2 separate regions of the Homo sapiens genome follow, and region 1 is linked to region 2. Evidence: fine-mapped expression QTL. Tissue or cell type: whole blood. Region 2 holds a variant in brackets; the other region holds the start of a gene. All regions are shown on one strand. Distances are from middle to middle.

Evidence for each region. PIP is the estimated chance that this variant, and not a neighbour inherited with it, causes the effect. A credible set is the group of variants that fine-mapping cannot tell apart.
Region 1: it holds the start of SGO1-AS1, and the variant in region 2 is the best candidate, but not a certain one, in a credible set for the expression of SGO1-AS1 in whole blood (TOPMed, PIP 0.90).

Annotation. Positions count from the first base shown.
Region 1 is chr3:20,172,011-20,177,010 of GRCh38, reverse strand. SGO1-AS1 (SGO1 antisense RNA 1) reads right to left here and starts at 2,725. Exons shown (of 4, transcript NR_132785.1): 1 at 2,486-2,725; 2 at 2,193-2,276. SGO1 (shugoshin 1) reads left to right here. Exons shown (of 8, transcript NM_001199251.3): 5 at 352-410; 6 at 1,956-2,762.
Region 2 is chr3:20,143,198-20,148,734 of GRCh38, reverse strand. It overlaps KAT2B (lysine acetyltransferase 2B), which reads right to left. Exons shown (of 18, transcript NM_003884.5): 14 at 2,305-2,419; 15 at 736-772; 16 at 429-492; 17 at 248-332. Among named protein-coding and RNA genes, the nearest start is that of MIR3135A, 8.4 kb to the right of the region's middle. The variant C/T (reference allele first, on the strand shown) is at 3,147.

The DNA of each region.
Region 1 (5,000 bases), 29 kb before region 2:
TCCTAAAGAGTTGAGTGATCAAACTACATTTTTTAAAAAACATTTAACAAATTAATTCTCATGGGCTGTTTCCGTAGTTAAATTGAGTTATATAATGTGTTTTCAGGTGGAACTCTCCAACTTGATAGGTTGGTTCTTCAAGTGGGAATTGAATGTCAGTCATAACAAATCAGTCTCCCTGTAATCAGCATAAGTGTCCTTTGGTTTCCTTTGATACAGAATAGATGTATTGATTTGAAATCGAATTATGAAATGATACTAAAGGAAAGAAAAATTATAATTTAGGAAAATACTGAATTTGTTTTTATTACATAATTGTTAAATTTCTGTTTTTCATTGGTATTTTCTAAGGCAAATTCCTCTTGAAGAAACTGAACTTCCAGGACAAGGAGAATCATTTCAAATAGAAGGTAATTCAAGTGAAAATCTAAAAATATTATTAAGGGCAAAATAAGGTCTTTGAGAACAAATAATACAATTAAATTTATCTAATTCTTTTTTTTTAACTTTTTAAATTTGTTCATCTGGTATTCTGCTCAAAGCAAATCTGTTTATTTTACACAGAGTAATAGAGTGTTAAAATATATTTATTGTGTCAAATCTGTAATCTGAATCTTTGGCTATAACTATGGCAGCAATTTACTGATTGCTACTACGTGTCAAGCTCTATGTTAGGCATTTTATGTGCATAATCTCACCTAACCCTCACAACAACCTAGGACTATAAGTACAGTTAGTCCTGTTTTATAGGAACTCAAGAAGGTAAAATATCTCACATGAAGAAGTCTAGATGTTAACAGCTAGCATTTAAAATCAAAGTTGAACTCCAAAGCCATCCCTTTCTTACTACTTTTAAATTGATATGTCCATGTTCTCAAGTGTCAATCTCCTCCACTTGAACCAAGCATTGAAGAAAGGATAGTATTTGAATAAGCAAAACCAGACGTCGAAGGAAGGATAGTATTTGAATAAGCAAAACCAGACATAGCCCCACTTTTCCTTAAAATACAAATTATATTTCTTACCTGAGAAGCTTTCTAGTTATTCAAATCTTATTTATTTTTCAAAGAACAACTTAGCTCCCACTTTCTCATTTGTCCCACTTTGGAATATGCGGTTCTACTTCTCTGAATCTGTACTCAATGATACATATAGACTATTCATTTTCTTTAAACCAAGAGCACATAAAAGCCTGTTATAATTTTTTTTTTTTTTGACAGTCTTGCTCTGTCGCCCAGGCTTGGAGAGCAGTGGTGCGATCTCAGCTCACTACAAGCTCTGCCTCCTGGGTTCACGCCATTCTCCTGCCTCAGTCTCCCGAGTAGTTGGGACTACAGGCACCCACCACCACGCCTGGCTAATTTTTTGTATTTTTTTTAGTAGAGACGGGGTTTCACTGTGTTAGCCAGGATGGTCTCGATCTCCTGACCTCGTGATCTGCCCGCCTCGGCCTCCCAAAGTGCTGGGATTACAAGCGTAAGCCACCGTGCCTGGCCTATAATGTTTTTAAAGATTATAAAGATTGAATGTCCCTTATCCAAAATGCTTGGGACCAGAAGTGTTTTGGATTTATTTTTTAAATTTTGGAGTATTTACATTATATCAGTTCATCATCCCTAATTTGAAAATCTGAAATCCAAAACCCTCCAGTTAGCATTTCCTTGGAGCATCATGACTGCACTAAAAAAGTTTTGGATTTCAGATTTTCAGATTAGGGATACTGAACCTGTACAAGATTCTTTCACATGTCAGATATAAGCCATCAGTTGATCACTGACAAGTAAATAGATGGTAATATTTAAGTTCCCAGGTTTTTATTTACAGATTTTATAATGTAGGAAAACTACAGAATGACCTTTTGGTCATTCACTTTTTTAGTTTGAATTCTAAAGTTCTTGAAATTCAAATTTCCACAAAGTAAAACTACTTTTCTCATTTATTTTTTAAATTCTCAGATCAGATACCTACTATTCCTCAAGACACACTGGGAGTTGATTTTGATTCAGGTGAAGCTAAGTCTACTGATAATGTCTTACCTAGAACTGTATCTGTTCGTAGCAGTTTAAAGAAACATTGTAACAGTATATGTCAGTTTGATAGCTTGGATGATTTTGAAACCAGTCATTTGGCAGGGAAGTCTTTTGAATTCGAAAGAGTTGGATTTTTAGACCCACTAGTAAACATGCACATACCTGAAAATGTACAACACAATGCTTGTCAATGGAGCAAGGACCAAGTTAACTTATCACCAAAGCTGATTCAGCCAGGAACGTTTACTAAAACAAAAGAAGACATTTTAGAATCTAAATCTGAACAAACTAAAAGTAAGCAAAGAGATACACAAGAAAGAAAAAGAGAAGAGAAAAGAAAAGCTAACAGGAGAAAATCAAAACGTATGTCAAAATATAAAGAGAATAAAAGCGAAAATAAAAAAACTGTTCCCCAAAAAAAAATGCACAAATCTGTCAGTTCCAATGATGCTTACAATTTTAATTTGGAAGAGGGTGTTCATCTTACTCCTTTCCGACAAAAAGTGAGCAATGACTCTAATAGAGAAGAAAACAACGAGTCTGAAGTGAGCCTCTGTGAATCAAGTGGTTCAGGAGATGATTCCGATGACCTCTATTTGCCCACTTGCAAGTACATTCAGAATCCCACGAGCAATTCAGATAGACCAGTCACCAGGCCTCTAGCTAAAAGAGCACTGAAATACACAGATGAAAAAGAGACGGAGGGTTCTAAGCCAACAAAAACTCCTACCAGTAAGTGATCTACTTGTTTACCTGTATTTTTAATGTTCGTGATAAATGATCACTCCTGATGCTTATATACTATACTTACCATCTGTTTCTCTGGTGGAGGTTGGAGACTTACCATCTGTCTCTCTTTGGTGGAAGTTATGGTCTGATTAAACAGTGGGGGGCTGGGTGTGGAAATCACAGTTGTATTGCTCTGACCTAATTCAGAGATTGCTTGTTATGGAGACAGAATTTTTATTTTCAGTAAATTAGGACTCCCAAGGGGACAGAGGGACTTTTTTGTAGACTTAGGTTGAATTGAAGTAGCTTTTATACACTTAACTGAAGTATCCCCTTGAAAGTGAAATCAAATTTGAATCCAGTGACTTGTTATTTTAATGGCCTTGTTTTATATTAAATTTGACAGGAACCGTGATTTAAAATAATCTTCTAGTTAGTGAAGATTTCCTCAATTGATAGGCTTAGTATTCTTTTGTACGACATCTCTAAAAACTGGCTCAGAAAATATTTTATTAGATCAAAAGTAGGCATAGTTCAAATGTTCGTAATACAACCTACACCTGTCCACAAAGATTCTCATTTGGCAATTTTAGTTAATACAAGTAAAACTAACATTTATAGTCAAGTTGTATCATTTTCAAAATATTGTCACATCATTTTATTTGATCCTCAGAACAATTCTGTGAAGTATAGGTGTTATGATGCTTATTTTGTTTGTAAGGAGATTAAAACCTTAAAAACCAAACCAACTTTCTAAATCGGCCAGTTAGTCAGTGGTAGCAGGCAAGTATCTTTTTTAAAAATATGCTGTAAGCCGGGCGGGTTGGCTCACGCCTGTAATCCCAGCACTTTGGGAGGCTGAGGTGGGCGGATCACCTGAGGTCAGGAGTCCAAGACCAGCCTGGCCAACATGGTGAAACCCCATCTCTACTAAAAATACAAAAAAATGAGCCAGGCCTGGTGGTATGTGCCGGTAATCCCAGCTACTCGGGAGGCTGAGGCAGGAGAAAAAGAATTGCTTGTACCCAGGAAACAGAGGTTGCAGTGAGCCGAGACCATGCCATTGCGCTCCAGCCTAGGCAACAAGAGCGAAACTCAGTCTCAAAAAAAAAAAAAGCAAAAATGCTATAATGATGTTAGAATAAATCAAACATGATTGTCAAAGTGTTGATAATTATTGGACCTGGGTAACTCAGAGTTTATTATACTGTTATTGCCATCTTTGTGTACATTTAAAAATGTCCAGAAAAAGTTGGGATTTTTTTGTTGTTGTTCACTTTTTAATTGAGACAGGGTCTTGCTCTATCACCTCGGCTGGAGGGCAGTGGCACTGTCATGGCTCACTGCAGTCTCAACCTCCCAGGCTCAAGTGATTCTTCCACCTCAGCCTCCCCAGTACTTGGGACTACAGGCATGCGCCATCACACCTGGCTAATTTTTTTTTTTTTTTTTTTTTTTTACTTTTTGTGAAGATGAGGTCTCACTGTGTTGCCAGGGTGGTCTCAAATTCCTGGGCTAAAGCAGTCCTCCTGCCTTGGCCTTACAAAGTGCTGGGATTACAGATGTGTGAGCCTGTATCCATAAAAATACATAAAATACATAAAAAATACGTTTTTAAACGAAAAAAATATACTCTAAAATGGTATTACTCAGAGTTTAATCCCTAGACGTCTTTTAAGAAATGCAGAATCTCAGGCCATACCCCATACCGTGGAGTCAGAATCTGCATCTTTTTTTTTTTTTTTTTTTTGAAACAGAGTTTCACTCTTGTTGCCCAGGCTACAGTGCAGTGGCACGATCTCAGCTCATCCCAACCTCCGCCTCCTGGGTTCAAGCGATTCTCCTGCCTCAGACTCCCGAGTAGCTGGGATTACAGGCATGTGCCACCACGCCCAGCTAATTTTGTATTTTTAGTAGAGACAGGCTTTCTCCATGTTAGTTAGGCTGGCCTCAAACTGCCAACCTCAGGTGATCCGCCCACCTCGGCCTCCCTAAGTGCTGGGATTACTGGCGTGAGCCACCGTGCCTGGCCATTAAGAAGTCCTCCTGTGGATTCATATACACATTAAAGTTTGAGAAGCATTTTTCCAGAATATAGCAACTGATCTGATATTGTTCCAAACAACATATTTCTCAAACTGAAAGTTGGAATAATTAATACAGTACAGTATATTTATGTGGGAACAAAAAGGACAGACTATAAAACCCAGATAACACTGGAGCATATGGCTCTTAGTATAC
Region 2 (5,537 bases):
TGGATTTTCTGCGTCTAGTGTCGTTAAGCTCATGTGGGCTCTAAACGACAGCTGCAGAATGTCTCTAATGAACACAGCCACCCACTTCTCTGCCATCACTGACCCGCCACGGTGCATGGAATCCCACCACCCGTCATACACTTCCTACCCTAAGCAGAGGAGTACAAATCAACCTCAGCAACCATTTGTCCCCCACACCGCCATCCAGAGTTTTAAATCTATACTTAGAAAATGTTAATGGTATTACCCATGGGGAACCTTATAACTTCATAATATCCTGGAGCTTCTGTTCTCTTCACAGGTTCCATGAAGGGCCAAGCGCTTTGATGGCTCTTGGGTAAAGAAAAAAGTAAGGTATCTAATATGGAAATTCCATGTGGGAAATCATTTCAAAATATTTGCATGAGGTGAATAAAGAGGACACCCACCTTCACCTGCTGGAGGATGCTCTTGAGCGTGCTGTAAAGCTGGTCAGGGTCTCTGGGCTCTTTACTTGAAAGGAAAAAGGGAAACAAGGAGCAATGATTAGAGTTTTACCCTATTGCCAGCTGATTACTATTCAGCTCATTCTTACAAAAACCTGAAATTGGAACCATTCCAGAATGTTTTAGGAAACTCAAAACCCACCAACTGTTGTGTTAGTGATTACAATTAGTTTGCCGTTTTTCTTTAAGTTGCTTGGTGGGGAAAAAAAAAAATCACTTCCATTAACATCCTCTTGCCCGTCATACTTACCTTTTCTCTTTTCCACTCGGTTTCCAGCCTGTCTCTCCTATACGTCAACAAAGTGAAACACTGAATGAGAAGTGCTTTTGGTCAAGAGAATAACATAGTTAATACTTATCAAAAACAAGAAATTATAGGCATGACAATAAAAGTCTACTTCTGAGAGACGACTGAAATTAATGGCAATTAGTTACTTCCTTATACCACTAACAATATAAAACATTTCCAAGACTAACAACGCTGCCCCATATGTTAGTGTTTTAAAGCAGGAACACCAACCTTTCAGTGGAGAGCATAAAAAATAAATATGTACAGTACTGTGGGCCTGTGTATTTTTTAAACTGAAAGTCAAATTTTGGGCTGATCACCCTGTAAAAGAGTTAAGCTGTTATTTTAGGTCAGAACAAACTCTGTCCTGGTCTCTGTTCTATTTGGCTAAGGCCCTGCTTGTAATGCAAGAAAGTTTAGTGTAGCAGATAGAAAACAGCCTGGAGTCTGACAGATCTGGATGTGATTTCCTGTTCTTTCCTTAAAAGGTAACTCACCCTAAATAAGAGTAAGTTGCCTCTCAGTTTATCAATCTATAAAACAGAACCCTAAAAATTAGGTGGTTTTATCCCTGTTGAGAGTAGTTAATGTACAAAAAAAAAAACAAAAACAGATAAATGCGTGGCACAAGTAGGCATTCAATGATATGGTTGCTATTATGTCATTAATAGAGATAATACATGGAAGTAGAATTTCTGGATTTAGCATAAAAGTAAGATCTGCCAGAGGGCACATGTAATAAAGTGATATATCTTGTCCAAATAACATCTTATTTTTTCTGGAAAATTTTTGCTTGTTTGATTTTGTTTATTAAAGCTTAAATATACTAAAAAGAACCTGGATTTGAACTGAACAAAATTGCCAATGATATTCAATGGCTTTTGACCTATAAAAACAACTATTTGGTATGGTTTAACCCAACACAACTCAACTCTAACATACAGACAAGAACCCTTAGGAAAACTACTGTAAAATAGGGAATATGAAACAAGGTATATGATTTCCACCACACATAACAAATAGTATTTTTTAGAAGTTTGGGGAGACTAGTCAAGCACAGATCTTGGAGGCTGCAACCATGGTGGCAATGAGACATGGTGCAAACAGTAAGGTGTTCGGCCATCAGAACTGGGCTGCTTCTAATTCTGACCGTTACTGGCTATGTGCCCTTTAACAGTAAATGATCTAACTGCTTTGGAACTCGATTTCCCCATTTATAAAATAGGATTCCCTGCTTTCAAGGTTGCATATGTGTAATAATTCGCACTGTGCTACAAATGGCAGACTCATTAAGTGGTGGATATTAACAGCTATTACAAGGGGGCATCTAAGCTCCCTTTGGTTTGTTTGTATTGGGTGGTAGGGAAGACATAAAAGGGTAACATTTGCTGCCTTCTTAAAAGACTAGAGATAACACAGAGACGGGCAGGGCAATAAAGCTTTCGAAGTTACTGCATTCTGGAAATTGTTTCAAACACAAACCACGGCATTACTAAAAAATTTCGCTTTTAAAAGAAGGTCTATACGTACTAATTCCAGGAATGCTTTCTATAGGAATCTGTCGAACTCCATCTTTAAAACATGAAAGTCCAGGGTAAACTTTTCGAATTTGTGCCTGTTTTCTTTCAATCAGTTTTTTAATTATCTGTAAAGCACAGGAAGGAAATGTGTTTAGGGAAAGAAGTCTATGGATACAGTTCAAGTCAGTCAACCTAATGAAATGTTTTCCTAACAAAACAGTCTTTTTTATGAAATAAGATGGGAGAAAGGGGTGAATGCTATTTAACAAGTAAGAAATGAACAGATTATATTATACCATGTCTATTTAGTGACATTCACAAAAACATCTTTGAGTTACTTGTCCCTGACATCCAGAAAAGCCAATATTGAGAAAACACACAGCCCCTAGGGCCCACTTGTCATCTGTAGCATAAGAGCCAATTATTTTGCCCTGCTTCTCTGAGGAGGCTCTGCCAGAATTACAGGAAAGCAGCCCTGAGCATTCACTACTCAGTCAAGTGACAGAACCTCTTCACTTCCCATAACTAGGAACTGTTCCCTTCGGACTAGAGAAGCAGGTAAACGGGCCCCAGAAAGTCCCAAAAGCCTACAGTTGTTAAAGCTTTACTATTTAAATTTTTCAAGGCTGGACCTCCAACCTATTCTGGCTGCATCAAAAAAGCAGCTCTATAATAGTAGGCTGTCATGAGAAGAAAGAAAAGAATAATGCAATTTAAAGTATCATCTATTAAAGCAACACAACCATGACATAAGCCATCACACTGACTGAGAAATTTTGAGAGATGTTTTGTTTGTTTTGTAAAATAATTATTAATATGCTGAGGTAACTACTTCCAAGACAGTGAGGTTAT[C/T]CCTTTAATAAAAAAAAAAAAAAAAAAAAAAAAACTAAAAAAATCCCATCCGGAAATTAAACATATCATAACGAAATTTTGGAAAAACGAAACAAAACAATAGAAATCACTAATTGCATTCACAAAGGAAAACAAAAAAATCTACTTCCTGATTGATTTCAAACATATAGCTGGTAAATACTGCAGCATGAATATGTAATCCTAACAGTTAAACAAATAACTTCATAAAATGAATGGGACTAGTAAAAGTATATTCCTAGTAAATCTAGATCAGTGCTGTCCAATAGAGACATAATACAAGCCACGCATGTAATTTAAATTTTTCTACTAGCCGCATTTTTAAAAGGCAAAAAGAAACAGGTGAAATTGATTTTAATAATGTATTTCATTTAACCCATTATATCTAAAATGTCATTGTAACATACAATTGGAAAAAAGTGTAAGATATTTTACATTGCTTTATTCATATGAACTCTTGAAAATCAGAGGATTGGCCAGGTGCAGTGGCTCACACCTGTAATCCCAGCACTTTGGGAGGCCGAGGTGGGTGGATCACTTGAGGTGAGGAGCTCGAGACCAGCCTGGCCAACACGGTGAAACCCCATTTCTACTAAAAATACAAAAAATGGGCTGGGCATGGTAGTGCACGCCTGTAATCCCAGTTACACAGGAGGCTGGGACAGGAGAATTGCTTGAACCTGGGAGGTGGAGGTTGCAGTGAACCAAGGTTGTGCCATTGCACTCCAGTCTGGGTGACAGAGCGAGACTTCCTCTTAAAAAAAAAAAAAGAAAAAGAAAGAAATGAAAATCAGAGGATTTTATACTTACAGCATGCCTTAATTTTGACTAACCACATATCAAGTCCTCAGTAGCCACATGTGGCTAGTGACTGCTACTTTTGACAAGGCTGATCTAGATGGGTGCTTTCCATTTATTTATTTTAAGTCCATTTATTTATTATAAGTCCAAATCTTAAAAAAAAAAAAGAAAAAAGAAACCTGGCTGGGCTTGGTGGCTCACGCCTGTAATCCCAGCACTTTGGGAGGCCGAGGTGGGCAGATCACGAGGTCAGGAGATCGAGACCATCCTGGCTAACACAGTGAAACCCCTTCTCTACTAAAAATTACAAAAAATTAGCTGGGCATGGTGGCGGGTGCCTGTAGTCCCAGCTACTCGGGAGGCTGAGGAAGGAGAATGGTGCGAACCCAGGAGGCAGAGCTTGCAGTGAGCCAAGATCATGCCACTGCACTCCAGCCTGGGTGACAGAGTGAGACGCTGTCTCAAAAAAAAAAAAAAAAAAAAAAAAAAAAAAGAATCCCAAGGGCAATCTCTTAAATCGACACCTTCAGAGAATATGCTGAAGACTGTTTCAATTTGAAAGTTTCCTTCTCTTCACCAAGGGACTCTCAAATGCAATGACCTACAGATGGCTTCCACTCACCTCATGTAGCACCTTAAAGATTGTGGGCTCCTGAGAAGTGACTGTTAATGGGAATGGGAGGCGTCCTAAGCTCTCTGTACCTCTAGTAATCAGTATGGAGAAGAGATCTTTTTTAATTTATTGTTTTCATTTTAGATACAGGGGGTATTATGGGTATACTGTGTGATGCTGAGGTTTGGGCTTCTAATGATCTCACTGCCCAAGTAGTGAGCACAGTACCTGACAGGTAGTTTTTCAACCCTTACTCCTCTCCCTCTCTTGCCTCTTTTGGAAACTCCAGTGTCTACTGTTCCCATCTTTGTGAGCATATATCCCCAATGTTCAGCTCCCACTTATAACAGAAAACATGCAGTATTTTGTTTTCTGTTCCTGTGTTAATCTGCTTAGGATAATGGCCCCAGCTAAACCCACACTGTTGCAAAGGACATGATTTTGTTCTTTTTTATGGCTGCATAATATTCCATGGTGTATATGTACTACATTTTCTTTATCCAATCTACCTTTGATGGGCACCTGAATTGATTTCATGTCTTTGTTATTGTGAATAGCGCTGCAATGAACATAAAAGCACATGTATCTTTTTGTAAGAACAATTTATTTTCCTTCGGGTATATGCTCAGTAATAGGATTTCTGTGTGGAATGGTAATTCTATTTTTAATTCTTTGAGAAATCTCCAAACGGCTTTCCACAGGGGCTGAACTAATTTGCATTCCCACCAAGAGTGTATAAGCATTCCCTTTTCTCCACAGCTTTGCCAACATCTGTTATTTTTTTAACTTCTTAATAATAGCCATTCTGACTGGTGTGAGATAGTATCACATTGTGGTTTTGACTTGCATCTCAGAAAGGAGATATTTTCATTGTGTTCTAGTGTATTAACTTCACCTCCCTAGAAAATATCTTCAACTCCCTACCATGACGATAAAATCAATGCCTTCCAAATGAAAGT